7 linked regions of the Homo sapiens genome follow. The protein of the gene in region 6 purifies or fractionates together with the protein of the main gene of each other region. This does not show direct contact. Each region holds a gene or a part of one and is shown on either strand. Other genes may lie near its edges.

Region 1 (4,616 bases), on a different chromosome or scaffold from region 6:
TAATTATGGACTCTGGCAGGAATTATCGGGAGATGCTGAAACAAGTGGGTGGAAGCCTGGTGAGCAGCAGGACATTACAGTGTCACCACTTTCCCACAGAGGCAGGTTCCCAGAAGAGACCTGGCGGACACCTACCCACACAGGGACGGACAGACCATGCCATGCGCTTCCTGTCTTGACAGCGCCGAGGACCTAACACTGCTAAGCAGTTCCTGCCAAAATGCACACTAAAATTTAATCAGATCCTCAACAGATGCAAATTGAAGGCTATACCACAAAAGAGCCACTTGCACTCTTCAAAACTGTCGGGGTCATAAAAAACACAGTAAGATGGAGGAACTAGAGTAAAGATAACCTCATAAGCCCTCCATCCCCCCATCCTCTCTTCCTGCTCTCCTAGCTCCTCTCCTGCCCTGGTGTTTGTTTTCTCCTCTTCTTAGCGCTCCTTCATTTTTCATCTAGCTTTTTCCACCTCCGCTTGTTCACTTCTATCTACTCTCTTTCCTCGTTTCCTTGACCCTCCTCCCCTTCAATTCTCCTCTCCATTTTCCTTAAGCCTTTGCCTGTCAATCACATGCAAACACAGACCAGCTCTCAAATGTTTGACCTTAGACAGTATCTTGATCTACCTATAGACCCGACATTCAATCATGAACAATTGAATAATTCTTTACGCCTCAATTATGCAGAAAAAATAAGTTAATGGCCCGCTTAAGTCCATTAATGGTAATTTTCCAGTATATCAATGGACAGTTTTGGTGCTGGGGTCATTCATCTGGGTGATGGACCACAGCTACTGTGTTCAAAGATCAAGAGGTTCTATTCAGGGCAAACTCTGGTGACTGAAGGTGACCAGAGAAATGACTGGGCTGATTCATGACGCTTACATCAGGAAATACTAGTTGACTGATGGTTAGGGCACAGAAACGAATCAGGACCCACCCTGCCCTGAGTAAGTTCACAGTCTAGGGGCAAGAATAACAACCTACAGATTGTTAAAATCTATTAGAGGTGTATGCTGAAGGATATAGCCTGAAGGAAAAGAAATAGCTGCCCATCCACCTATGTGACAAACTAGGATGGGCTGCTAACTCCTTCCTGAAAAATCAACCCTGAAGAAATGAGAGTGAGAGAGGTTCCAGTAACAAACTATAGCAACAAAATGAGACACACACCCAGCTTCACTGAAGGCTGTTTGGAGCTGGGGATGTGAGAAATGAGTGGCTGTTGCCTAGGGCACTGAAGAGCTGGCTGGAAGGGCAAGGAAAGGATGGGGGACAAAAGCTGTTCAAATATCAAAATGTTCTACCTCTCCCCAGCATGGCCTTGGGGTGGTCATTGCCTGGCATTGCCACGACATTAGCAGTGACGGCCCAGGCCTCTAGGGCCATAGGACACTGGGCAAAGGCAGGGCAACACAAAAGCCCAGCAGTTAGAAAGAACACGTGCAGACTAGCGAGCTGCCTGTGGGCATCCTTCCACAACCACCTCCAGCCCCCGGATGCAGAAGCTGTGCAGCCCTGTGCTGTACAGAGCGCACCAGGATGAGGGGCCGGTGGGGTGGACATCCTGCAGGGCCTCTCCTCCCTGTGTGAGTGCCCTGGCCACCTGTGCCCCAGCAAGGTGCCTTTTTGTAGTCTATATGCCCAGAGGGAGGTATCCTCTTGTGACTGGCACAATGTGTATGAAGCAGGGGAAGTCTTGTTGCGTAGCAAAAAACTTGGTAGCATAAAGCAACAATTTTACTGTATCTCATGAATCAGATGCTCACTCTTGGGGACACATGCCTGTGCTTAAGGTGGCAGCTGGGTGTTGGATGTCTGGCACTTTGGTGCCCACTAATGAGGTCTCCCTCTGCAGTCTCATCCTCCAGCCTTTGTGTGTGGTCTCTCTCTCCAGCAGAGGGTGATCCTGCACTTCTTACATGACAACCACGGGCTCCGAGAGGAAGTAGAAGCTGCCAAACTTTCTGAAGGCCACTTCCTCAATATTCCGTCCGTCAAAGCAGGCACAAGCCCAATCCAGATTCAAGAGGAGAGGACATAGGCTGCAGAGGGTTATTTAACAGGATTATCCACAATGTTAAATTTCCTGATTTTGAGGATTTTAATGTGATTATATAACAGAATATCTTTTAGAAAAATACGAACTGAAATGTTTAGAGATAAAGAGGCACAATGCCTACAACTGACTCAAGTGATTCAAAAAAATGTAAATACAAAGGATGATAAAGAAAATGTGGCAAGTGGTAAAAACTGGCAAACCTGGACGTAGGGTATTCAGGATTCCTTTGAATTCCTCTTGCAACTTTTCTTTTAACTTAGCAGTTATTTCAACAGGAAAGAAATTACTTCTCCACCCTAACCCTGCCACCCTCCTCCTCCTAAGTCCACACCCTTAGCTTCCCAAATGTGCCCTGCCTCAGGGGCTCGGCCTTTCCCATTCCTTTTGTCTAGAATCTTCTTTTCCCAAATCTCTGCATGGCCCATTTGGATCTCTGATCAAATATAGTCAGGCAATGCATAGTGATATTTCAGTCAATGACAAACCACATATATGAGAGTGGTCCCATAAGATTATAATGGAGCTGAAAAATTCCTATCACCTAGTGATGTCATGGCTGTCAAAACATCATAGTGTAACAGATTAATCACATTTGTGGTAATGTTGGTGTAAACAAACCTACTTTTTATCATTGTTTTAGAGTATATTCCTTCTACATTTTTTTAAGTTAATTGTAAACTAGCCTTAGGCAGGTGCTTCAAGAGAAATTCCTGAAGGCAATGTTATCATAGGAGATGAGATGACAGCTGCATGTCTGTTATTGCCCCTGAAGACCTTCCACTGGGACAAGATGTTAAGGTGGAAGACAGTGATACTGATGATCCTGACTTGGTACAGGCCCAGGCTTATGGTATATTTGTGTCTTAGTTTTTAACAAAAAAGTTTAAAAAGTAAAAATAGATGGCTGGGCATGGTGGCTCACACCTGTAATCCCAGCACTTTGGGAGGCCAAGGCAGGTGGATCACCTGAGATCAGGAGTTTGAGACCAGCCTGGCCAACATGGCGAAACCCTGTCTCTACTAAAAATACAGAAATTAGCCGGTGTGGTGGCGTGTGCCTGTAATCTCAACTATTCAGGAGGCTGAGGCAGGAGAATCACTTGAACCCGGGAGGCGGAGGTTGCAGTGAGCCAAGACGACGCCACTGCACTCCAGCCTGAGCAACAGAGCAAGGCTCCAACTGAAAAGAAAAAAAAAAAAAAGTAAAAATAGAAAAAAGCTATCAAATAGGGGTATAAAGAGAGTATTTTTAGCAAAGACATGGAATAAACCTAAATGCCCATCAATGATAGACTGGATAAAGAAAATGTGGTACATATACACCATGGAATACTATACAGCCATAAAAAAAGAATGAGATCAAGTCCTTTGCGGGGACATAGATGGAGCTGGAGGCCATTATCCATAGCAAACTAACACAGGAACAGAAAACCAAATACAGCATGTTCTCACTTATAAGTAGGAGCTAAATTATGAGAACACATGGACACGGGGGAACAACACACACTGGCCTATTGGAGGGTAGAGGGTGGGAGGAGGGAGAGGATCAGGAAAAATAACTAATATAACTAAATAACTAAAAATAACTAATTACTAGGCTTAATACCTCAGTGATGAAATAATCTGTACAATAAACCCCCATGAGACAAGTTGACCTATGTAACAAACCTGTACATGTAACCCTGAATATAAAAGTTAAAATAAAATAAAATGAAGAAAGATTTTTTGTAAAGCAAAATAAGTTTGTGTTTTAAGCTAAGTGTTATTATAAAGGATTTTAAAAGTTTATCAAGTAAAACAGTTACAGTAAGCTAAGGTTAATTTATTATTGAAGAAAAATGTTTTTATAAATTTACTGTAGCCCAAGTGTAATGTGTTTATAGTTTACAGTAGTGTACAATGACGTATTAGGCCTTCACATTTACTCACTACTCAGTTATTCACCCAGAACAACTTCCAGTTGTGCCAGCTCCAGCTACACTAAGTGCCCTATTCAGATGTACCATTTTTTATGTTTTATACTGTATTTTTACTGTACCTTTTCAATGTTTAGACACACACCATTGTGTTACAACACTGTGCCTACAGTATTCAGTACAGTAACATGCCACACAGGTTTGTAGCCTAGGACGGTAGACTGTACCATCTAGCCCAGGTGTGTACTGAGCTGCTCCATCTGGGTGTATGTAAGCACACTTTAGGATGTTCACACAACAATGAAATGACCTAATGATGCATTTCTCAGAACCTATCCTCATCAAGAGTCATGTGACTGTACCAACTCTGTTCAAATATCATCTCTGAGGTTTTCTTTAGCCACTCCATCGTTCCCAACTTCCACTTCCACTTGCTTTATCAGTAGTAGTAGTATTTTTTTTTTTTTTTTGAGACAGGGTCTCACTTTGTCACCCAGGCTGGAGTGCAGTTGCACAATCATAGCTCACTGTAGCCTCAAACTCCTGGGCTCAAGTAATTCTACTGCCTCAGCCTCCCAAGTAGTTGGGACCACAGGCACAAGCCACTACACTAGGCCAATTTTTTAACATTACTGT
Region 2 (4,128 bases), on a different chromosome or scaffold from region 6:
GGGGAAAGGGTAAAAGGAGAAATACAAGATGGGGAAACCTATCAGATAATATTTTTTCAGCATAGTTGTTGGTGTCATAATTATTTTTTATTAGTTCAGGCTCTTTTTTTTTTTTTTTTTTTTTTTTTTGAGACGGCGTCTCACTCTGTCGCCCAGGCTGGAGTGCAGTGGCACAGTCTCAGCTCACTGCAACCTCTGCCTCCTGGGTTCAAGCGATTCTCCTGCCTCAGCCTCCGGAGTACCTGGGATTACAGGCATACCCCACCACGCCTGGCTAATATTTGTATTTTTACTAGAGATGGGGTTTCACCATGTTGGCCTGTCTGGTCTTGAACTCCTGACCTCAGTTAATCTGCCCGCCTCCGCCTCCCAAAGTGCTGGGATTACAGGTGTGAACCACCGTGCCTGGCCTAGTTCAGGCTCTTATTATCTCTCTTCTGTGCTACTGCAGTAGCCTTCCAACTGGTCTCTGCCCCTAGCCTCACCCCCTTCCAATCCCCTGCTATAAGATGGCTCTTTTTAAAGGACAAATCTGGCTCTGACCTATGTCTAAAGTGTTCCTTGGCTGGTGACTGCTCACCAGACCCCATGCCAGGGCCCTAGCATGGTGCCCAAGGTGCTACTGGACCTGGCCCTGTGCCTCCAGGATCCCTTCTGGCCTCTCCCTGGCTGAGCTTTGTTCTCCTCTAAAACTGAACCAAGTTTAAGTTCCCGAACTCACCTCCTCGTTCTTGCACATGCTGTCTCCACTGACTGCACTGCCTCTCTTCTTCAATCTGATGAATTCTCTTTCACTTCTCAACCCAAATCAGCTGTCACTTCCACCAGGACGTCTTCCCTGTCATTCGCTGCTCTTATTCACAGCAATGACCCCCTCCCTCTGTGCATCACCGACCTCTAATTTATTTGACTATATGTCTATCACTTGTGCCAGAACAGCAAACTCTTTTAGAGCATTCACTGCCCTCATACATCTCTGCATTCGCATCACCTAGCTTAGTGCATAGCGCCAAGTAGGCCCACAAGTTAGCCGGACTCGGGAACACATAGGAAGCAGAGTAGGGGTTAATGGGAATACTAGGTGGAGATGACAGAGGCAATGGCAGGGGCAGCAGCTAGAATAAGACTGTTAAGCAGAAAAGGAGCCTGGAAGGAACAAGACGAGGAACTGCTGTAAGGGGAGCGGTACTGCCCCGGCCTGGGGCGCCTCTTCTCCCAGCACCTGGGCGGCCCGGCTCCGCGGCCGGGAACTACAAATCCCAGGATTCTCAGCGGTGTGGACGGGAAGTGTCCTGTCTGGCGGTGCCGACGGTGAGGGGCGGTGGCCCAACGGCGGGAGATTCAAACCTGGAAGAAGGAGGAACATGGAGAGGAGAGCAGCGGGCCCAGGCTGGGCAGCCTGTGAGTGCGGAGAGGGTCAGAGAAGGGTCTCGCAGTGGTGCCGCTGGTCGGGGGCTTGGCTGTCCCGGGAGAGATTGGGGCGTGTGTCGGGCGTGAAGCCTGAGGGGCGAGGGCGGTGGGACTGCTCAGTGGGACGGGAATCCTCAGCCCGGGCGCCGTGGGCCCGAGTGGAACTGTGAGCGGCGCATTGTCCCCTGACTAATGTGCTGCGCTTTAAAGCTTACAAAGAACTTTCTTCCTATTTCCAAGTTCTGGGGTTCCGGAGTCGGGAGAATGTAGGTGATCCTAATGGCTCCTTGAAATTCAGCAGTTACTGCTGGCTACCAAACTTGCCCAGCGATGCCACCGGACAAGACGCCTCAAGGGATCTGGGGGACTCTTAGGCTTTGAGATGCCGCTTTCAGACAATGCCTGTCAAACAGGGGGTGAAATTACCCGGGAAGCTTGTTTGAGATGCAGATTCCTGGGACCTGTCCCAGAGCTTCAGTTCCAGAAGGTCTGGTTTGGGGCCCATAATCTGCATTTATAACAAGCACTGCTGTGCTTCTTCCCTCACCCCAGGTGATTGTGAGGAAGGTAGTCCCTGGGCCACATTTTCAAAGACACTGTTTTAGAGAGAGAGACTGGAGCTGGAAGGATGGGTGGGGCAGAAAGGTTCTATCTGATTTTCTGAATGAAAGGAAAACCTGCTCCTTCCACCACTCCCTTCCTTTCTATTAGGATTCAAAGAGCAAAGTCCATGTCCAGTCTTCTGTTAAAGGAAAACTAGTTCCAGACCTGAGAAGGACAGGAAAACTGTTTTTCGGTTTTTTATTTTTTTGAGACAGCATGTGTATGTACAAAATCCCTCCCATCGCCCACAGTCCTCAGTTCATAACTCTGAGATGATGTCATTCACTTACTGGTTTATTTTCCATGCTTAACAACCAACACTTGTTCCTTGTACACCCCCTTGGAGGAACTGATGGCTTTCCTGTGGTTGGCCAGTGTTTTCAAATCTGTATTTGGAGGGGTGTGTGTGTGTGTGCACGCATGTGTTTTAATTTACTTAACTGCTCATTCATATAAGCTCTGCCCTTCCCTGAATCATTGCAGAATATGCAATATAAGGAAATAGGATAACAACCGGGAATGACATTAAGTGCTGAGTCAAAGACAGATTGGCTAAGCTCTGCCTTTTTTCAAGCTCTCTGAGTTTATTTTCTTACTGTGTGTGTAGCTTTCTCTTACTCTTTCTGTTTGATTTTGTATTGTGTTTCTAAGGAGAATAGAGAGAGGGGAGAGAAGGGAGAAGGATTAAGGGAGACTGTAACTAAGGCAAATTATGATTGCTGTCTCACTTGAGGGATTCTCTATTCTTGAGTTTTGGAATCAGTACTCTGTATTTTATTTAGCTTGAAGATTCTTTTCCTCCTCGGGTGACCTATACCAAAAAGGATAGTGAAGATACCTTTGTGATCTTTTAAAATTTTCTTTGTCCTTCCACTTAATCCCAAGTGAGTGGCATGTTTCCCTCTGTTGGACTGCCTTTCCCTGTGTTCCGCCTATTTATTCCTTAAGATCTAGTTCATAGCTAGAATCCTTTGCTTCCTCTGCTGCTCCCATAGATTTTATGCATGGGCTATAATCATACTTATCATGTTAGATTAATTTATTCAGATGTTTTTCTCTTCTGATAATAATCTTTGGGCGCTGTGGTTCACGCCTGTAATCCCAGCACTTTGGGAGGCCAAGGCGGGAGGATCACTTGAGCCCAGGAGTCCAAGACCAGCCTGGGCAACATGGTGAGAACCAGTCTCAACAAAAAACGCAAGAATTAGCCAGACATGGTGGTGCGCACCTGTGGTCCCAGCTATTTGGTGGTGGGGGGGCTGAGGTGGGAAGATCACCTGAGCCCAGGAGGTCAAGGCTGCACTACTGCACTCCAGCCTGGGTGACAGAGTGACACCCTGTTTCAAAAACAAAACAAACCCACCAATATCTCTGTTGTCCAGGATGGAGTGCAGTGGCACGATCATGGCTAACCGCAGCCTAGACCTCCTGGGCTCAGGTCTAGGCCCAGTAGCTGGGAGTACAGGTTTGCACCATCACACCAGGCTAATTTGTGTATTTTTTGTCAAGACAGGGTCTCACCATGTTGCCCAGGCTGGTCTCAAACTTCTGGGCTCAAGCGATCCACCTACCTCAGCATCCAGAAGTACTGGGATTATAGGCATGAGCCACCATGCAGGCCTTTATCTCTGCATTTCTTAAGAGTAGGGGTCTGCTAGTCCAGTGCCTGGCATAAAGGAGGTATTGATGAATGAATGAATGAGTGAATGATGAATTCTGGTTGGTTCTATTACCTCACCTCTGAGAGAGTAACCAACGAGGATGACACAGGTCCAGTTCTTGGAGAACTCAGTCTAATTAGGGATAAGAAAAGGAGTTAAGTTTCAAGCCAAGGAAGGCTCTGGATGTCCCAGCTGGGAGGTACTGAGGGAAGTTCCATGAGTAGACTTGAGGAGGAAGAGGACAGGAAGATGGCTACAGAGGAAAGAGAAGTAATGCCTCCAGCACAGGAGGAGGCTGCCTATTAAAGGGTATCCTGGGAAGAGAAGGAGGGACACATGGGAGATGTTTCAGGTCTCTGAGCAGGGTTGCCTAAACAAGTCTGTTGAGAAGATGTTTCGGCTGGGCATGGTGGCGGCTCAAGCCTGTAATGCCAGCACTTTGGGAGGCCAAGGC
Region 3 (2,446 bases), on a different chromosome or scaffold from region 6:
AGTTTCTGAGCAACATCTGATCTTAGAAGGCAAACTCCATTTGTTAATATGACAGATTGTAATTCTGCTTCCTAAGTCTTCATGATTTCTTCCTTCTGTCTAGTTCATTGCTTATTTTCATTCTTTAGTGTGGAATTGTATCTGTGATTCTGCCCAAGTTCAACCAACCTGTTCTCTCTTATCTTTCTCTAGACAGAATGATGTCTGTAGCTGTGTTTGTGTAATTCAGGTGGCTTCTCAAACTAGCCTCTTAATACCCAAATTATTAGTCTTTATATTTAGTTGACAGAGTTTTCACATACCTTCTCATTTGACTTCTCTACTAAAAGGTAGTTTTAGACTGTCCCATTTTATAAGTGAGGAACCTTTGTATATCCTGCCCAAGGGTGCCGTAAGTATGGCAGAGCCAGCACACTAACTCAATTCCTTTGACTCCAGGTCCAGCTTTCCTCCCTATGTTGTTTAGCACAACCCAGAAGGAGACAGCAGTGTCTCCTGAGGGATCCCTTCCTTTCTCTGTGATGCAGTACTGACAGTAATTATTCACTTTGGACACTGCTACCATCATGGCAAATTTAGGCCATTTAGATAAAAGGGAATTAACTAATTATAATAAAAGGGGATATATTATGAAATGTATAAAGCACTTTGTTCCTTTTTTCTGTAGTAATTTTGTGACCTAGTCCTTGGTTACAGTAGTGAGGGTTCAGAAACCTGGGAGCTTTTTGAGTAAATACAAAGCACAACATAAAACTTTTATGTTTGACTCTATTCCTGTTCAAAGCTATTTCTGTTAACTAAGCTTATCTGCGCATTCTAGTTGGGAACTATTACTACAATGTTAGACTGCTCCATGTAAAACTAATAAATGGCAGTAAAAGGTCTCAGAAGCACCAAGGGTTTTGATCAGGTCAGGAGTTAGAAACTTAATGTCATTTGTATTCATTTCTTGACCAATTGCCAAAGTTTATATATTTTTAATTTTTCTAACATACCACATTGTCTGTTGTATTAATACCAGTTCACTTTTTGTTTTCTGCAGAAAAATCCAGAGGAAGACAACTCAGGGAGAACATTGGGTTGGGAGCCAGGGCACTTGCTGCTCACCATCTGCACCGTGCGCAGTATGGAGCAGCTCCTGCCGTTCTTCAATGTGCTCAGTCAAGTCTTCAACAGCAAAGTCACAAGCCGATGTGGAGGACACTCAGGGAGTCCTATCCTCTACTCAAATGCCTTCCCTAATAAGGACATGAAACTGGAGAACCACAAACCATGTTCCAGCAAAGCCAGGCAAAAAATAGAAGAGATGGTAGAAAAAGATTTTCTGGAAGGGATGATAAAAACTTGAGCACCATTGCTGGTTCCATTTAGCTTACATGTAAATGTAATTATTTAAAACACACACACTGCTCTGCGTTGTATAGTTTTTCCTTTTTTGTATGTAACAGAACACATTTCAGATTGTATTTAATTTAAATATTTGTATATAAGAGCAAATGTCTGAATGTGGCCTGAATCAAGTTTAAATATTGTTGGCTCATACTGATTATGGTGCCTAAGAGAGCTATATATATACACATGTAAAGTCCATTGTTTTTATTGTCCTGAGTTGTCTTAAACCTGCAAAATATACACTACCCATTTTTTTTTTCCATTGGTTTCAGACTTGGTTCAATTAAGATTGGTTGGGGATTTTTCTCTTTTCCTTATTAACCATGTTCTGGTATCAGAATGGTGTTCCTTCTCCATCAGAGGCTGGGAAACGTATTATAATTAGTTTTTCTCCCACATACCTTCACCAAGAGCAGTGAAGAATAACTGAAGGCTGGACCATGCATCCTTAAAAGTATTGCATGAGCATCTCCACCTCAGTATGGAAGAGGGATGGACAACCCCCTATTCATACCTCTGAGTTCCTGATGGCATTAGTCATATAGGTAAGTCATCTAATAATCTTTCTTAAGACTCTGCAATGGAAAAACTGGTTGTATAAAGTCTTCTCTGCCCTCTCCATTTGTATCAGCAATGGGGAATGCTGCAAAACATCATCTTGCTCATGTGATGGTGATGGCAAAGATATCACAAGGAGTTGGTAATAAGATTTAATTTTCCAGTAGCCTGCATGAATTGTTCCCCACATAAAACTGTACAGTTAGTGACTGAATTGTATACTTAAGTCCCAGTATTTTACATTAGTGAGACTGAAATTAGAGGTAAATTTCTTTAACAAGTGTAAGGCTTACCTATTTATAAAGAATTATTCTGTTAGTGTTTAAGAAAAACAGATCTAGAGACAATCCAGTAGGCTGCATTGTAAACATTATGATTATAAATCTCTTAGTACTGCCATTATTATTGACAGTTTTGTAAAGACTTGTAAAAAGTCCAGTTTCTCAGGAATATGAAAATTATCTTCAGAAACCTGGTTGGGGCCTTTCTCCAATTC
Region 4 (4,616 bases), on a different chromosome or scaffold from region 6:
CTCTATCTCCTGACCTCGTGATCCACCCACCTCGGCCTCCCACAGTGCTGCGATTACAGGCGTGAGCCACCGTGCCTGGCCAAGAGTGCTATTCTCTTAGTAGTAAAACAAACACAATTATCTTGAATTTTTAATGTAGAAATTAAAAGCTTACAAAATACATTCTAACAGTCTTTGAATTCTATTGTAATATGAGTTAATGGGTCTACATAGGTATGCTTTAGATGTTTAATATCTAATTACATGAGGTAGATTAAGCAAAAATGCAGATTAAGGTTTACACATAGATGCTTAGAACCACTGACCTTGCAATGAAGTGAGTGATGCCAAATTCAGGTAGTGACTGCCAAGCTTGAATAAATCTCATCTTGGCTTCAATTAGACTCATCTGAGCTACATTCTGATGGGCCTCCAAGATTCTCGCTGTTATCTAAACATGAGTAAACATCACCTTTACCATTGAACATTATTCTCTCATGGGAGAACTGAGACAAAAGATCAAAAGATTGAATTACGCACCCCGTACCCCAAAATCATATTGTAAGAGTTGAAATCAAAATATCTGAAGCTACATTTGGACACTGTAATAATGTAATGTATAAGGATTTTTCAAAATAAGTCTTAATTTCAGTTTTCATATATCAACAAAAAGTACTATTAGGAGTACATAGTTGCCACACTTGAGACATATTCCAAATGCATACACCTAACGGTACTACTATTACAGAACAGCACATTCTAATCCACATATACACGAGTTTTAATTAAATTTAGCACTATGTCTATAATCAGAATGAATACCTGGAATACATGTTTCTAGCAGGAATATTTGTTAGCAGCTTTAAGGTACTTGAAATCACCATAATCATTTCTATTTTAAATTTAAATTTCACTACTGGGGTAAATTCCATGAGGGAAGGTTGTGGCTATGAATTTTTATTTATTCTTTTTCTTTTGTGGTAAATATGGAGAACTTACCAAATCTCTTATATAGCCTGGCTGTAGATGGCAATGCGAGGAAAGAAAAAGGAAGCAGAAAGAAAAAAAAAGGCAATCAGAAAAAATGGCAACGAAGCAAAGAAAAAGTTGCGGTCACCTGCAAACCAAAATTCCAGCCAAAAGTCATGCAAAAAACTACTTTAGGTAGAAACCAAGCAAAGTAAATGCAAGAATGAAAAATGAAAATGAGGAAGCAGCAATTACTTTCCATTTAGAACACTGAGAAACACTCCACATTATTTTAGAATGTTAAATGTTGCTAAAGAACCTAAGGGTAGAAATTTGTAGGGAGAAGATAAAAAGAGCAAATATTTCTTTCCCCCTACATCGTGTACCCAGTTACATCGTGTACCCAGTTCTCACCGGTTAAGGTAAAGCCAATTATTTTAGTAGCAAAATAAAAGTATCCAAAAGCCTTTAAAGTCTTCTCAGATTTAGTCAGATAATATGATCCATGCACTGCTTTTCAGAAATAAGAATTTGAAGGCATAAAATAAGTGCAGTGCCCATCTGTTTCTTTTTTTACACAAGAAAAGCAAACCCCTCAGTTACCATGTGTTTTTTGCATCCTTTTTCCTGGAAGGGAAAACAAAGAGATGCCGTATACTACATGAGGAATTTCGGCTTTATGGCATTAGTCATTTCCATTTAGATTAACATAAATCAACATATAGAATAATTCTTCAAAATTTAAAAATCCAGTTTGAGAGTCATATTTATTTAAAAATACCCACAGCATGTTTAGTTAATATATATATAATTGAAGGGAATTAAAGTAGGTTAAATACAACAGGTTATTTTGATAGACCCAAAAGAAAACTACGAGTCTATGCCCAGGTAGGGAAGAATGTCCTTGTGGCCTGCACATCTTCCTACAGCCTCCAGAACGCAACTGGATACAGCTTAATAATTACTGAGCACTATGTCCAGTGTGACTAGTGTGGTATCTGACACACAGTAGCAACTAAACTTCTGAATGTCACTACTTACTAGGCACCAGGGCAATAACATCATGGTCGCTATTCTCTGGAAACAATTTTTTTTTCTGAGACAGAATTTCACTCTTGTCACCCAGGCTGGAGTGCAATGGCGCCATCTTGGCTCACTGCAACCTCCACCTCCCGGGTACAGGTGATTCTCCTGCCTCAGCCTCCCAAGTAGCTGGCATTATAGGCGTGCACCACCATGCCTGGCTAATTTTTGTATTTTTAGTAGAGATGGGGTTTCACCATGTTGGCCAGGCTGGTCTCAAACTCCTGACCTCAAGTGATCCACCCGCCTCGGCCTCTCAAAGTGCTGGGATTACAGGCGTGAGCCACTGTGCCTGGCCAACAATTTGTAAGTCTATTCCAGCAGAGTGTGGTGGCTCACACCTGTAATCCCAGTGCTTCGGGAGGCCAAGGCAGGCAGATCACTTGAGCTCAAGAGTTTGAGACCAGTCTAAGCAACATAGCGAGACCCCATCTCTACAAAAAATACAAAAATTAGCCTGGAGTGGCAGTGCGTGCCTGTGGTTCTAGTTACTAGGGAGGCTGAGGTGGGAGGATTGCTTGAGCCTGGGAGATGGAGGCTGCAGTGCGCTTGAGCTATGATGGTGCCACTGCACTCCAGCCTGGGAGACAGAGAGACTCTGCCTCAAAGAGAACAAAATACACACCAAAAAATCTAACCTATAGCTCTAGTGAGAGAAAGGAGGGTTAAAAATGTGCATTTGATTAGATGGCAACATGAAAGGCAAGGCCAGAAGGATCTTTAACCACGGACCACACACAAACTGTCCTCCTGTCAGTTAAAGATAAATCTTCAGTTGATAGTTTCTAGTCAAGAACTATCATTTAAAAGGCTTCTGAGAAAACAAATAGTTGACAGTGAAAACAATGTGTGGCAGCTCTCGTTTAAGCTCTTTTATCTCCCTGATACCTTACTGTGAAATGATAAAATTGGTCAGGTTTGAAATTACTTATTGCCTTTGAAGGCAAATAAGTTCACTTTTAGAAACAAGATTCTGTATAAATAATTTTAAAAAACTACGAATGAAAAATGAAATTAGCACTTGCTTTACTTTCTCTTTTTAACTTACAATCTACATTCCATACAGTTCCCCAGGGCAGCATTTCCTCCATTCCTTACTACTCCCACATCATATGACCACGGGATAAACAATTTCTAGGCTTACACAACCTCTGAGACTTAAAGACAAATATTCTGTCATTAAAATTCTGAACATTTAGGTAGAAATAATTTTAGACCCATATAATAAATATTATACTTAAAGTTAAGGAATTAGTAAGTGTTCTGGGCATTTCATTGAGCCTTTTTAGTATGTTTTAAAATTATTCCTTAACAAAGATTAAAGCAAAATTAGATAAAAACAAAATGTTTATTTTAAAGGTCTTCGTCTCCCCACCCCCAAACTAAAGCCTTTTCCTTTTATGGCATGATGTTGGGGGCAGAGAATACCAGGGCCTATACCAAGTGAAATTCCCCTGTAAAGGACTTTTTATGTTGTACCAAAGAACCATTTTCCTAAGTAGCAGCCCTTTTATGGTATTAATTTCCAAAGAAAAGAATTCTAAACAGAGTGAACAAAAGCAAATTTCAATGAAAATTTACCAAACTGTGTAACTATGTGTAAAATTGTGGTTAGGTTCTGACTGAAAATGTTAAGAAAAGACACGGCTAAAAATGTACTCTTGTAAAGTTTCTTTCTAAAGCTGGAAAAGCCAATTTCAACAAGAGCAGGTATTACAGATTTTGTTGAGAAATGCTGGCTGCACTTTATGTCACATTTACTTAATTATATATGGAATAAAATTAAATAAATTAAGGAACACAAAGCATTGAGACCATATTCAATTCCCTAAAATGTCTGAAAGAACACCATGTTAACAGAATGATTTCTGCAATTTGTTTAGAGTAAGTTCTCAACTATTCTGTGTCCTTATCTGTTCTATTAAAATGATAAAGATTTTTTTTTTTAATGACCAATTTAAACTGACTAAAGGTTACTTTATTTTCTACAGATTGAGTATCCATTATCCAAAATTCTTGGGACCAGAAGTATTTTGGGTTTCAGATTTTTTTGGATTTTGGAATATCTGCATTATACTTACCAGTTGAGGATCCCAAATCTGAAATCCAAAATGTGCCAATGAGCATTTGAGAGTCATGTTGGCACTCAAAAAGTTTCAGATTTTGGAGGATTTCAGAGGTTCAGATTAGGGATACTCTAACTGTATTTTATATTCTAACCATCTGATACAAAATTAAGACTAAAAAGTTTTGTTTAAGAGGGGAAAAACAAAGTTATGTACAAAATTATAAAAACAAACCAGCACAGTAGATGAAGTAAAATGAAGTAAGTACCTGCTTGTTCTTATACTTTTTTAGATAGCGGGGAGACACCAAACATTCAGGAGTTATATCAGTCGTGATCTGCTCTGGTATTAACTGAGGATCTGGGTTTAAATGCTGCATCTTCAGAAAGGAAAGAATATTCTGAACTTCTAAGTTGTAAGAACTGTCCGCCATGGTCTTGCCTTTGGAGGCTAATCTGCAGGCTGCCATCCAGTGTGCATACTGTTTTTCCTGGAGAAAAGAAATACTGATGTGTGCAA
Region 5 (4,616 bases), on a different chromosome or scaffold from region 6:
ATCGTCCATGATTTTGTTTCCTCGCTTGTAAAATGAGGATAAAAATAAACATGACTCTAGGATTGTTTTAAAGATTTGGTGAAATAATATATGTGAAACCATTAGCACGTAGTCTGCACTTAAAAAGTGGCAATCCCTTTCATTATTATTTACTTATATGTCTTTCTCCTGTACAACATTATGAGCTCCTCACTCATCTTCTGTCCTCAACACCCAGCATAGGACCTGACATATACTTGGTGTTTAATGGATGTTTGATGGTTGAGCTTAAAATCATCCATAGAAGACAGGCCACAATTCTTTTAGCCACAATGCATGTAGAAGTTCAAAAGTTCCTCAGTGAAGAGGAACTGAAAGTAAATATCAGAACCTTGCTGCTCTGTAATTCACTGAGTGCAATCCAGTCTTTATCAACACAGTAAAATCTTTACTGTTCTCATTCTCTAAAGTAGCTTCACTCACGCTCAGCAAATTATTTTATTTTTCTCATTAAGTTGTAAATCATATTACCTCTCCAGGTATTGCTTTAGACAAATATTTGTATTGGGTGGACCCTACCTGACTACTGCTGACAAGATTCTGGTGCACCAAAGGGCAAGGATGCTGCCCCAGCTGGGCTGATTTCTGCTTGGGTGTACTACACATGGCATTAAAGCCTGCAATATTCAGAGACCCCGTTCTTTGGGGGTTGCCTTAGGATTCATGAAAGCCCAGAAACTGTATTCAAAATTGTATGTGTGTATACGCACACACACCTGAGAATATGTGCACTTTCAAAGGAAACAAACCTAACTTTTATCATAATTTCAAAGGAATGCATGACCAAAAGAATTAAGATTAACAGACCTAGAAAGCCTAGGGCGCCAGAATCATTATCAAGCCAGAGGCTTACCTTTAGGAAAAGAAACAGATCTTGAAACAATTTGTGGTATGAGTTCAGATCTTTAGGGGAGCTAGAACCCCCAGTTACTAGGACCAAGGCACAGAATCAGCTAACCAAACTCCAAGGATGAAGAGTCATTGGAGTTGGCAGGGTAATTTAAATCTCCTTTAAACTCCCTCTAACTGCACATAAGTTAGATCCAGAATCTGTGGATCCATCCTAAAGATGGCAGTAGTCACTATAGCTGGGAGCTATTCAGAGAGGCATTCAGATATCACACTGTGTCATATGTTAAATGCAGACAACCAAAGGTGATAGAAGAATTATGACATCAAATTTAAAATTCCTAGAAGTATCCAGAATAGTATGCAAATGTAAATTTAACACTTCTAAGATCCATTTAAACACAATAATGGCAAATTATATTTTAACCTATTTTGTGTCTTAATCTGATAAGAAGAAATTTGAAATTGTGCATCTTTTAATACAGGACTGATTAAAATAATTTCTGAGAAAAGTCAATAAAAATAAATATTAGCGAGAAAAGAAAATCTAAGACATAAATTTAAAGTAGTGTATCTGTACATACTTATACTACAGGTTGTCATACATTTTGACAGCACTTGTCATTTTTAGAAAATTGAAATTACTTTCTATTTACTCTCTGTAAATAAAAAGCATCTCTACTGAGACATGGTTACTGAGTTCCATATTTACAGAAATGAGCTAGAATGTTTTAATCTCTAACTACAATAAAATCATCCAAGGTGATCATAAAGTTCCCATATCTCTTTCTAAAAAATAAAAATAAAATAGAACAAAGCCAGAAGATTTTAAAAGTTTTTTTTAAAAAACTCCAAGGTTTTAGTACTATTAAAAAATGCCTAAGTTTAGAGGGTTTTGATTCAATTTCCTCTGAATTTCACTCTTCCCATGATAACCAGTCACTACCATTTGTATCCCCAGAGGTTTGAATGAAGTCTGAACAAAGTTTACTTCAATTGATTTCCTGCCAATCTGAGATAGGCTGAGACTGTCAAAGTGAAGGAAAAACAGTACAAATAAACATATAAAATACAAGAAGCATAAATCTTTATGGGCTTATAAATTACAGGTATTAATATACAACAAACACTAGTTCTCTAGAACAGTCCTAACCTATTCTATGGCTGTGCCATCTAGCCCTTAATGACGGGGTTCAGCTTCAAAGACAGCTGGTTCAACTTCCCCCCCATTTCAGTTCCTGGCCTGATTCTGAAAGGTTTGGTGTCATGTTATTTCTCACTACAGAGGAAATAGTTTGCTAGACACATTAAACCCTAGGTAGCCAAATTCCAGGGATCTTAGTTGGTCATATATTACTTGGCTACTTGTTGAACTGTAATCCTATCCTCTACATACAAGTCCAGGACTATAACAGTTTCTTAATCATAAGTAAAAGTAATTTCCAATTAGTAAGAAACAGACTAACATGGGTAACAGGCGTAAGGGATGAGTGGAGAACATCAAGATTAACCCACCATAGTGCCAGGGTTCCCATTCATTTCCCCTTAAGGTAGCTATTTGGAGTATGCTTTTAAAAGAGAACCCTGTTCCCATGCTTTCTCTTAAGTACAACTTTTGCATCAACCAAAGATGGACTAGCTATTATGATGCAAAGGACCACGGGAAGCTGCTCTGGCTAAACATCTCCTTCTTGTTGGCCCTACCAGTCCACGGCATTTCATTGTTCAAAATGCATGTCTTTACTTAAGATCTTTGGAGTTTCAAATCACTATGTAAAGCAAAGATGTGACTAGAAGTTACCACATTAAGCTATTTTCTGTCATTAATGCTTTGATATGAATGTGTTTCAAGATGGTTAACTAGCCAAGGTTAGGCATTGAAAGTTGGAGAGATGCATCCTAGGCAAGCCGGGGTAATCTCCAAAGTGGGGTAACCAAGAGCATTAGGAAACTGAATTTGGAAAAGAGAGGGTAGCATGAAAGATGAAATCTGATATAAATAAGGGGGTAGCAGGGCAAAGCCATTTCACAGATCTGTAAACAAACTGCAATGCTGACCTCTGGTTTCCCTAACTAAGAGCTTTCACAAAGTAAACATGTTATTTAAAAATAATATCTCAAATAGCCATGCAGTTATGATGCGCAGTTTAACTGAGGTGGGGGAGATTCTCAGAGGGAAGAACCCAGAGATCAGGGTTCAAGGCTGGGAGAGAAATGGCTACTTCCTTGGAAATGTTCCTAGGTGTCCTGATCTGCCACTGAGCTACAGCCTTCAAACTCAAACTGCAAGGGAAGCTTTTTTCGAGCCTCCCTGGAAAAAACCCATGACCCCAAAATCCTTCCCTCGAAGCTCTATCCAGAGGCTTGGTACTGCTTCAAGTAGAAAATCTGATTTGGTTTCTGGGAAGGAGGACCTGTTGGAAAGTTACAAGATTGACGTGACAGTGACAAGTCTGGAACCTCCTGGCTCTGATGCACAGTGCTTGAACTCCCTTAGAAATGAAGCATTGCCCCCAAGATAGTATAAAGTTACAGTTATCTAAAGTTTTCTCTCTTTTTTTTACCTGTTTCTCTTTCTCCAAAAAAAAGTTTAATTTTAAGAACAATGAAAAATCAATCTTGAACAATTATAGGGAAACTCAAAAGAGCACACTGTGCATTTCAGCTACTTCAGTCACAATGAAACAATCATTAAAAAGATATTATGTTTGTTTCACACAAAGAAAATGTGAAAAAAAAAACACCTCCATATTGTTAAAGCAACATGTACCACAACTAAACACAGGTAGAATTTTTAAATTTTAAATTTGGCCAGGTGTGGTGGCTCACACCTGTAATCTCAGCACTTTGGGAGGCAGAGAAGGGCAGATCATGAGGTCAGGAGTTCAAGACCAGCCTAGCCAACATGGTGAAACCTCATCTCTACTAAAAATACAAAAAAATTACCCGGGCATGGTGGCACACTCCTCTAGTCCCATCTACTCAGGAGACTGAGGCAAGAGAATCACTTGAACCTGGGAGACAGAGTTTGTGGTGAGCCAAGATTGCGCCACTGCACTCCAGCCTGGCAACAGAGTGAGACTCTGCCTCAAAATAATAATAATTATTATTATTACTATTTTAAATTTAATTTAATTTTTTAATTTTAAAATTACAAGCGATTCATAAACATTCTGTCCTCTCTTCTTTCAATATTTTGTTTTTATTTATTGTCTAATATGTATAAGTAGCTGGAAAATTGTACAGCTCATATTCTTTTATAAGCAATGAAAAGAAAATAAGTGAGATTTAATACATATAAATAATTTTCTATTATTCTTTAATACTTTCAATTTATTTAATGCTTTTGTTTTATACAACATACAAAATACTACCGCAGCACATGTAATGTAATAGCTTAGTCGTAGTCTTACTTTTCAAAAAATTGTATATAATACATAATCTCAACCCCAGTATCAGATATCACTTGTGTACATCTTGCCTTTATTCCTATTCTTGCTTCTGGAAACCTTAGCTATTTCTGACAAAGGGTATACAAGGAATATTTCTAAAGCAGTGGCTCTCTAAGTGTGGTCCTCAGAGCAGCAGTATCAGCATCACCTGGGACTTGCTAGAAATGCAAATTCTCAGCTTCCATCCCAGACCTACTGAATCAGAAACTCTGAAGGTGAGGCTGGGCAATCTGTATTTTAACAAAGCCCTCTGATGCACAGAAATGTTTGAGAACC
Region 6 (3,699 bases):
CCCAACGCACTCCGGGCCGCAGCCCCGCCGCCGCCATCGAGGAGCCTTGGGGACGCGAAGGGCCAGCCCTGCTGCTGCTGTCGCGCTTTTCCCAGGCCCCTGACCCAAGTGGGGCACTTGTGACCGGCCCGGCGCTGTACGGCCTGCTGACCTATGTGACCGGCGCACCGGGCCCGCCCAGCCCACGTGCACTGCGCATTCTGTCACGCCTCACCTGCAACCCTGCCTGCCTCGAGGCCTTCGTGCGCAGCTATGGCGCGGCGCTGCTGCGGGCCTGGCTGGTGCTGGGGGTGGCGCCTGACGATTGGCCGGCACCACGTGCCCGGCCCACTCTCCACAGCCGGCACCGAGAGCTGGGTGAGTTCCCATACCCACCCGTCTCCTTGCCCCCATGTGAGTCCCCATCCTCCCCCATGGCTTCCATGGGCCCAGAACCTCACCTTCCCACTCACCTGTCCTCCCCAGCCCGTCCTCCAGACAACCTGTCACCAGAGTGGGGTGGGGAGCAGGGCGTTCCAGTCCCTCCATGGGCCCACAGGCAGAGTTCTGCTGTGTCCTCTGCCCTAGCCCTGGGACCCAGATACCCTAACTCTAGATGCAGCCCCGCGCCCAGGATCTGGGCTGGTCTGTGCTTCTTTCCTGGCTCTGCCATTGGTTCAGCACTGTCCTGACTGCTCCCCACCAGCACGCTGACCTGTGAACCCCAGCCTCACCATCACCCCCAGCACTGCCAGGGACTGCCCTGTCTGCTGTGCCCTGACCACAGGCTGCTTCATGGCGTTACTGCTAGACCAAGGAGCCCTTCTGCTGGCCCTGTCCGGGCATAACAGAAGGCTCGCACTCTTGTCTTCTGGTCACACCTCACTATGTCCCCTCAGCTCCTATCTCTGTATGGCCTGGTTTTTCCCAGGTTATGATTATAGAGCGAGGATTATTACAATATTGGGATAAAGAGTAATTACTACAAACTAATGATTAATGATATTCATATATCTCTAAGATCTATATCTGGTATAACTATTCTTGTTTTATATTGTATTATACTGGAACAGCTCGTGTCCTCCGTCTCTTGCCTCGGCGCCTGGGTGGCTTGCCGCCCACACTTCAGGGGCCCAGACTTACACCCTGACTGTCCCACCTTCTGTCCTTGTCCTGGACCTCAGGTTCCCAGCGTCCCGAGCCCAGCACTGTCTCTTCAGTGCCCTGATTTCTCACCCAGAGGTTTCACCCTCCTTCATCTCACGGGCCCAGAGCCCTGTCTCACTCACCCCACCTGTCTTAGACCCCAGTTCCCAGCCTGACAAGCTTTCCACTCACAGGGGAGAGGCTACTGCAGAACCTGACGGTTCAGGCTGAGTCGCCCTTTGGGGTTGGGGCCCTGACGCACCTGCTGCTCTCTGGGAGCCCTGAGGACCGAGTGGCCTGCGCGCTGACCCTGCCCTTCATCTGCCGGTGAGTGGGAAGTGGGTGCCTTGCGGGGTTGGGGGAGGAGTGCTGTGTTTCCCAGGCCCGTTGCCCACCTTTTGAAAGGCCCTCTCTTCCCTGTAGGAAGCCCTCTCTGTGGCGCCGGCTGCTTCTGGAGCAGGGTGGTCTCCGGCTCCTCCTTGCGGCGCTGACCCGGCCGGCCCCACACCCGCTCTTCCTCTTCTTTGCCGCGGACTCCCTTTCCTGCCTCCAAGACCTGGTGTCTCCCACTGTGAGCCCAGCTGTCCCACAGGCAGTCCCCATGGACCTAGACTCACCTTCCCCTTGCCTCTATGAACCTCTGCTGGGCCCAGCCCCTGTCCCAGCTCCCGACCTGCACTTCCTGCTGGACTCAGGCCTCCAGCTCCCTGCCCAGCGAGCGGCCTCAGCCACCGCCTCCCCTTTCTTCCGGGCCCTGCTGTCAGGCAGCTTTGCAGAAGCCCAGATGGACCTGGTGCCCCTGCGAGGTCTGTCGCCTGGTGCAGCCTGGCCTGTCCTGCATCATTTGCATGGTTGTCGGGGGTGTGGGGCTGCCCTGGGGCCCGTGCCCCCACCAGGCCAGCCCCTGCTGGGTTCAGAGGCCGAGGAGGCACTGGAGGCTGCTGGCCGTTTCCTACTGCCTGGGCTGGAGGAGGAGCTGGAAGAGGCCGTGGGCCGCATCCACCTGGGACCCCAGGGTGGCCCGGAGTCAGTGGGTGAGGTGTTCCGCCTGGGCCGGCCCCGGCTGGCTGCCCACTGTGCCCGCTGGACACTGGGGTCAGAGCAGTGCCCGAGGAAGCGGGGTCTGGCCCTGGTGGGGCTTGTGGAGGCAGCAGGTGAAGAGGCAGGGCCCCTGACGGAGGCTTTGCTGGCTGTGGTGATGGGGATTGAGTTGGGGGCAAGGGTCCCTGCCTAGACTGTTGACGTCCCCTGGGAAGGGGACCCAAGGATGAATTGGCTGTGAAGGATCCTCCCTGAGACTGGCAAGGGAGGAGGCTGAGCAGAAGGAGTCATCATGGAGGAGCGGTGAGAACATGGAACCGGACTCCAAGATGACGATCTAAAGACCCGGGAGCGAGAAGCCAAGGCCAGGTTCTGGGTGTAGGGCCCAGAGAAGCAGAACAGCCCAGAGCCCCAGGTGCCTGGCCTGGCCTAGACCTCTGGAATTGAGATTAAACAATTTGGAGTTGGATACCTGTGTTGTGTGGTGTGTCTGCTTCTGTTTCTTCGCCCACCAAGCAGGGTCTTGTTCAGGTCTTTGTGTCTGGACACAGACCACCCTTGCATGTGACAGTTTAATAAGTACTGGGACAAGGTTGAGTTCCCAGGCTGCTGCTTAGGATGTGGTTTTGGGCCTCAGGGGAAGCCTGCTTCCTGCTGTCAGGGCCTCACTCCTCTGACATAGCAACCCAACTGGACACACAGATCTTGCTTGGGGCTGAAAGGGTTGTGCTGAGGGAATGCTGTTAGTCTGATGATGTGTTGAAGGCCTTTGCATTACTGACTGTTGCCCATCTTGGGCCCCCATTCTTTGGCTCCCTTTTCATCTCCTGGGCCACGTGTCCTACTGCTGTCTGTCTGAGGGAAGACCTGCTGTGGAGGGAATCTCTGAGCCCTGTCTTAGTCATGCCCAGAGACAGACAAAGACCTGTGCTGGCGTTGAGGGGAGGGAAGGGCTCACATTGCTTTGGTCTCCAAGGCAGGGTCTCCATCATCTGGCTTCCAGATCTTTTTTTTTTTTTTTTTTTTTGACTATTATTTTGCTTTAGATTCAGGGGGCACGTGCATGTTTGTTACACGGGTGTATTGTGTACTGGGGAGGATTGGGTTTCTAGTGAACCCATTACCCAAAGAGTGAACACTATACCCACTAGGCAATTTTCCAGCCTTTGCCCCGCACCTACCCGCCCCCCTTTTGGAGTCCCCAGTGTCTGTTTCTATCTTCATGCCCCTGTGTACCCATTGCTTAGTTCCCACTTATAACGGAGAACATGCAGTATTTGGTTTTCTGTGTCTGAGTTAGTTTACTTAGGATAATGGCCTCCAGCTCCATTCATGTTCCTGCAAAGGACGTTATTTCATTTTTTAAGGCTGTGTACTATTCCATGGTGTATATGTACCACATTTTCCTTTTTTTTTTTTAAGAGACAGGGTCTTGCTATGTTGCCCAGGCTGGTCTCAAAATCCTAAGTTCAAGCAGTTCTCCTGCCTCAGACTCCTAAAATGCTGGGATTTATAGGCACGAGCCACTGTGCC
Region 7 (4,422 bases), on a different chromosome or scaffold from region 6:
CTATGTAATGAGAACTAATAATGTAGAAGTGATGAAAAATGGGGGAAAACAATTTGTAGCTGTCACAGTAAAAACTGGCTCAGGCAAATTATCAAGAAATACTAAAGCTGGCAGTTAAAAGTTTGATGAGAGAGAGGAATATAGTCTTGAAATGTCTCCTTGCACAATACTTACAAATTTTTCAGTGGAGAAACTTGGCAGACAGATACCATGTTACTAATAATAAAACAAACTTCACCACCACTATAAAGAGAAAACCCAACATCGTCAGCCTCCTGGCATGACGCAGCGAGAACACAGCACCACCTCTGTGGTCCTCCTGTCAAAAACGCACACATCACAGGGACACTTCAGACCAACCAAAACTGAAGCACATTCAGACTACCTGACCGGTACCCTGCAAGACTGTCTCAATCATAAAAGACAGACTGGGAACTGTTTCTGACGGTAGTGAACTCGAGACAAGACAGCCAAAGGCAACTGGTGTCACCCCAGACAAAATTGGACATTGTGACTGCAAAGGACATTACTGGGCCGCTGGAGCGAGCTTGCTGGTTTGAGGGTGACCTGCATCCACGTTTCTGACGCCTATGCTGCGAGCTGTAAAGAGGGCCTCTGTTTCCAGGAAACACCACAGGAGCAAGGGGGTAACGGAACACGTCTGTAACTTACTGTCAAAGGGTTCAGAAAACAATGAGTGACATGCAAGCACACCAGAGGATGCAAATGCAAATGTAGAGAAATGTTCAGTGGAGAATGTGGGCGAAAGAGAAATAGGAGCTCTTCACGCCACAGAGCTTGAAAGTATTCCACAGTGGAGACTCCAGAGACAAATCCACCAAAGGCAGTGTGTGGTCGGTGTTTGTACAGACCAACACACAAAATGAGGTAGACAGGAAGACAGCAGCCTTCACAGTAAAACCGCTTTCACTAGAGAAAATAAGGATGTATTCTAACACTGCCATTTAGCCAAAAGTAAGTTTGTTCTTTCTGCTTCCTAAGAGCAAAAACAGGAATCACACATGTATATATTTTATCAATTTTATTGAAATATTCCAAGGATCCCAACCCCATTTAAAAATAAAAATTGTAAAGCACTCCATTCAATAAAAGCACATAAGTCCCCCTCAATAATTAGTATGACAATTCACGATACAGCTCTTACTCTGGGAGAGTTTATTTTACCCTTTATTCCAAAAGGCACAAAGTCATCTGAGGCCTCAGATATTAACCCCACTGCATGTTAATGACACACCACTGAGGTGCAGCTCAATGTAATTATTAAAGCTTATAACACACTTCCCCAAGAATTTATAGATTCTTTCTATAAATAATAATTTAAAAAATACTGCACCTTAAGACCAATACAGGCTTAACAAAAGACCTGAAATTTCTGCAAGGGCAGTTTTGTTTCTTGATAGAAGTACAACTTTTGAAAGTCTATTCCCAGCAAAAGAAACACTAGACCCAGCTTGGCCAAAGAAACAAAATAAAACAAGTGATTTCTAACACGCTAAAAGAGTACATTTTCATCAGCTCCAAAGAAAGCAGTCCTGGTCATTCAGAAGGCTCCTATGATCCCACCAGTCTGCAGTCATTAGAAATATATGCTTTACAGGCCACAGGCTGCTCTGGATTTGGTTTCAGACACCAGTGACCAGAAGAAGCCAGTTTTGCGTGTGAGGGGTGTGGGCCCCCGCTGCCTTGGGCCTGCTCACCGGGGTGGATGGACCCCCGCCGGGTCACAGCCTGCTGTCACGTCTGGACTGTTGGCCTCTTCTGCATCTGGGCTGTTGGGCTCTCCTGCTCTCTGTCCCTCAGTCACGTCATTGTCTGGCTGTCCGGTGCTGGCTGCACTCTCATTTGTGAGGATAACCCCTTCCTTCTTCTTTTCTCCCAATACCTCCAGCCCCATCATCCTGAGATAATGAAGCCGTTCATTCTTGGGCACAAAAGTTCGAATGGAGGCCTTTCCCCGCCATCCGCATAAGACGATGGGACACTGCAGAGCGTCTGGATTCCTACAAGTGAAAGTGGCTTCATGTAGAACATTAAACATTCCCATAACTAAATCGAATGAGATGTAATATGCAACTGCTTAAAAAAGAAAACCACAGAAAACCCATACCCACAAAACCCCCAAAACTACTGGGAGGACATTTCATCTGGATCCGAGGGGTAGGTTTTCTCAAAGGACTTCCTTCTTCATGTCCTGAGTAAAATTCTCACCCTCGCTTTCGCCCTGCCTCTTTAAGTTCACAATGGAGTAGAGGCCCCAAATCTACAGATTTCACATACACTTTCTACATACTTCCTTCTCAAACTTAACTTACTGTCCCCGCCACCCCGTGTCACCTCACCCCACTAAATGAGAAGCGTTTCTCCACAGGCTCCCTGCAGCTCACCTCAAGTTTCCTAAGTGGACTGAAGCTCCTGAGAGGCTGGGAGACTCTGCCCTTAGCAGGGCGTCAGAGCAGGACCCAGGACCACCGGGAGACTCTGCCCTTAGCAGGGCTGCCAGAGCAGAACCCAGGACCACTCATCCTTTTGATACTCAGTGTTAGCGTGATTTCTTCTCCAGGGACCCCACATGGCAGTCTGAGCCCTGCTGGGCACACAGTGCTCATTTCCGTTCCCAGCATGCAGTGTTACCCACAGTCAAAAACATCCCTGCCTCTCTGAACATGCTCCGAGCCTCCCTACCTTCCAGGCTCCACCTGTCCAGCCAGGAGGCATCGACGCCCCAGCAGAGATGGACGCCACCATTTCCAACCTGCACACGCCCTCTCTCAACTTATCTGATTTCTTTCATACGGGACTCTGACCTAGATTTTAGGCTCCTAACGGCCGTGTTTAATCACCTTTCCATTTTTCCTAATGTAAAGCAGGGGCACAAAGGTGGTTTTAAGAAGTGAGAGGAAAATATAAGAAATTCCCAACTCCCATCTTCTTAAAAAAAAAAAACCATTATTCCTGAAGTTGACCTGTCACCTGTGTATTTCACCAAGTAGAAACAAGTGTTTAAATATGGAAAAGTGAATCCACACCTTAAAATATCCCAATATTTTCTATGTGGGCCACATGGGACTGTTATTTTAAAAACCATTTCTGAGTCTTTGTTCAAACTCTCGTTAAAAACACCCAGAAGCCATCAATCACTAGATGCTCCTGCCCGTTCACCATCCAGACACCATCCGCCTCCAGCAGGTCCCCAGGGTGCTCATGCGCTCGGCCTCGCTGACCTCTCCAGCCCATCCATCTGTTGTTCCCTCACCAAGTTCCTGCCCCTCCCACCTCAGCCCCCACCTGTCCTCTCTCCACATGGCAGCCGGACAGCCTGAACCCTGAGGACATGTGGCCCCTCGGCCTCCCTGCCAACCTCTTACCTATCCCTCCTCCTTCCCTACTTGGCTGGGCCCGCCCCGACCCCCAGCTTGCACCTGCCTCAGGATCTGCGCTTTGGTGGTTCCTTCAAGTTAGCACTGGATCCCTGGTCCAACACTAACTTCCCAAAGAAATCTGTACAGTGGTTCTACCTATTCACTCCCCCAAATCCCAGTCAGCCGTGGACCCCATTCTGTTTCCTCCTCTCAGAAATGGTGTTGCATGTCACCAAGACGGAGCTGTTGCAGGTGAGATCCGAATTCTGCCACTCGTGAGCTGAGGAGCTCTGGGCAAGCCACCTAACTTTCTGTCCCGGCTTCCTCCTCTGGCAAGTGCTGCCAAAACCAGCACCTGCTCCCCCAAGGCCCCCCACAAGGATGCAGCGTGAATACATGCAAGCAGCGTGGAGCAGTGGTCCCGTGGGGACCGTGAGTGCAAGCGTGAGCAAATCCCATGCTCCGGCCCTAGCACTCCTGATGCAGTAACATGTCAGCAACACACATGGCTGAACCAGCCATGAGGACAAAAGAACGGAACCTCACTCAACTGTCCAATCTTCACACTTACTCTGTACAAGACAGAAATTTTCATTGGTTTCTAATGCTTAAAAAATAAGTACTATGCATTTTATTCTCTGTAAGTAAAAATTCACTTAGCCTGAGCTGAGTGTTCTATGAAACAGCATCTTCATGATGACCTACAGGAATATTTTGGTTCTGAAGTTTTCACAAGGCTACTTCTGAGGAACAATCACAAAAGGCCTGAAGAAGGTTCCCACCTTCCCAAGTCACTTTCCTCACCAACGAGAACACTGTAGCTAATGACAAGGCGTGTGTGTCTAAGGGCAGGGCGTGTACTGACTTACGCAGAATCTGGTTCATACTTCAGCACGATGCTTCCCTTTGCTGGAAAAGAAACAGACACACATTTGCCAGGTTTTCCAGGTAGTGGATGCATGCGCTGAGCACATTTCTGCACCTAGTGATGTGTTAAGTATTCTGAAGAAAGAAAACAACAAATAATCTACATTCTTGGCTT

The links.
Region 1: the proteins of ARMC5 (region 6) and NCAPG2 purify together in Homo sapiens (affinity purification with mass spectrometry; one large-scale study listed by BioGRID and IntAct). This does not show direct contact.
Region 2: the proteins of ARMC5 (region 6) and IQGAP3 purify together in Homo sapiens (affinity purification with mass spectrometry; one large-scale study listed by BioGRID and IntAct). This does not show direct contact.
Region 3: the proteins of ARMC5 (region 6) and PGM3 purify together in Homo sapiens (affinity purification with mass spectrometry, with the first as the bait; one study listed by BioGRID). This does not show direct contact.
Region 4: the proteins of ARMC5 (region 6) and FERMT2 purify together in Homo sapiens (affinity purification with mass spectrometry, with the first as the bait; one study listed by BioGRID). This does not show direct contact.
Region 5: the proteins of ARMC5 (region 6) and CA1 purify together in Homo sapiens (affinity purification with mass spectrometry, with the first as the bait; one study listed by BioGRID). This does not show direct contact.
Region 7: the proteins of ARMC5 (region 6) and NSUN2 purify together in Homo sapiens (affinity purification with mass spectrometry, with the first as the bait; one study listed by BioGRID). This does not show direct contact.

Annotation. Positions count from the first base shown.
Region 1 is NC_000007.14:158,694,354-158,698,969, forward strand, and holds part of NCAPG2 (condensin-2 complex subunit G2), read right to left. Parts: intron 1-4,616. UniProt on the Homo sapiens protein: Regulatory subunit of the condensin-2 complex, a complex which establishes mitotic chromosome architecture and is involved in physical rigidity of the chromatid axis.
Region 2 is NC_000001.11:156,569,766-156,573,893, reverse strand, and holds the start of IQGAP3 (ras GTPase-activating-like protein IQGAP3), read left to right. Parts: upstream 1-1,328; 5' UTR 1,329-1,364; coding exon 1,365-1,401; coding exon of another isoform or gene 1,402-1,416; intron 1,417-4,128.
Region 3 is NC_000006.12:83,166,820-83,169,265, forward strand, and holds part of PGM3 (phosphoacetylglucosamine mutase), read right to left. Parts: coding exon 2,415-2,446; 3' UTR 1,349-2,414; coding exon of another isoform or gene 1,043-1,348; 3' UTR 1-1,042. Other genes in the region: protein DOP1A, read left to right, coding at 1,043-1,348. UniProt on the Homo sapiens protein: Catalyzes the conversion of GlcNAc-6-P into GlcNAc-1-P during the synthesis of uridine diphosphate/UDP-GlcNAc, a sugar nucleotide critical to multiple glycosylation pathways including protein N- and O-glycosylation.
Region 4 is NC_000014.9:52,860,036-52,864,651, forward strand, and holds part of FERMT2 (fermitin family homolog 2), read right to left. Parts: intron 4,588-4,616; coding exon 4,366-4,587; intron 1,576-4,365; coding exon of another isoform or gene 1,552-1,575; intron 1,000-1,551; coding exon of another isoform or gene 979-999; intron 431-978; coding exon 306-430; intron 1-305. UniProt on the Homo sapiens protein: Scaffolding protein that enhances integrin activation mediated by TLN1 and/or TLN2, but activates integrins only weakly by itself. Binds to membranes enriched in phosphoinositides.
Region 5 is NC_000008.11:85,367,549-85,372,164, reverse strand, and holds part of CA1 (carbonic anhydrase 1), read left to right. Parts: exon of another isoform or gene 1-24; intron 25-4,616. UniProt on the Homo sapiens protein: Catalyzes the reversible hydration of carbon dioxide. Can hydrate cyanamide to urea.
Region 6 is NC_000016.10:31,464,531-31,468,229, forward strand, and holds the end of ARMC5 (armadillo repeat-containing protein 5), read left to right. Parts: coding exon 1-357; coding exon of another isoform or gene 358-671; exon of another isoform or gene 672-1,319; coding exon 1,320-1,452; exon of another isoform or gene 1,453-1,530; coding exon of another isoform or gene 1,531-1,548; coding exon 1,549-2,359; 3' UTR 2,360-2,635; downstream 2,636-3,699.
Region 7 is NC_000005.10:6,598,212-6,602,633, forward strand, and holds the end of NSUN2 (RNA cytosine C(5)-methyltransferase NSUN2), read right to left. Parts: intron 4,290-4,422; coding exon 4,250-4,289; intron 2,022-4,249; coding exon 1,715-2,021; 3' UTR 1,028-1,714; downstream 1-1,027. UniProt on the Homo sapiens protein: RNA cytosine C(5)-methyltransferase that methylates cytosine to 5-methylcytosine (m5C) in various RNAs, such as tRNAs, mRNAs and some long non-coding RNAs (lncRNAs).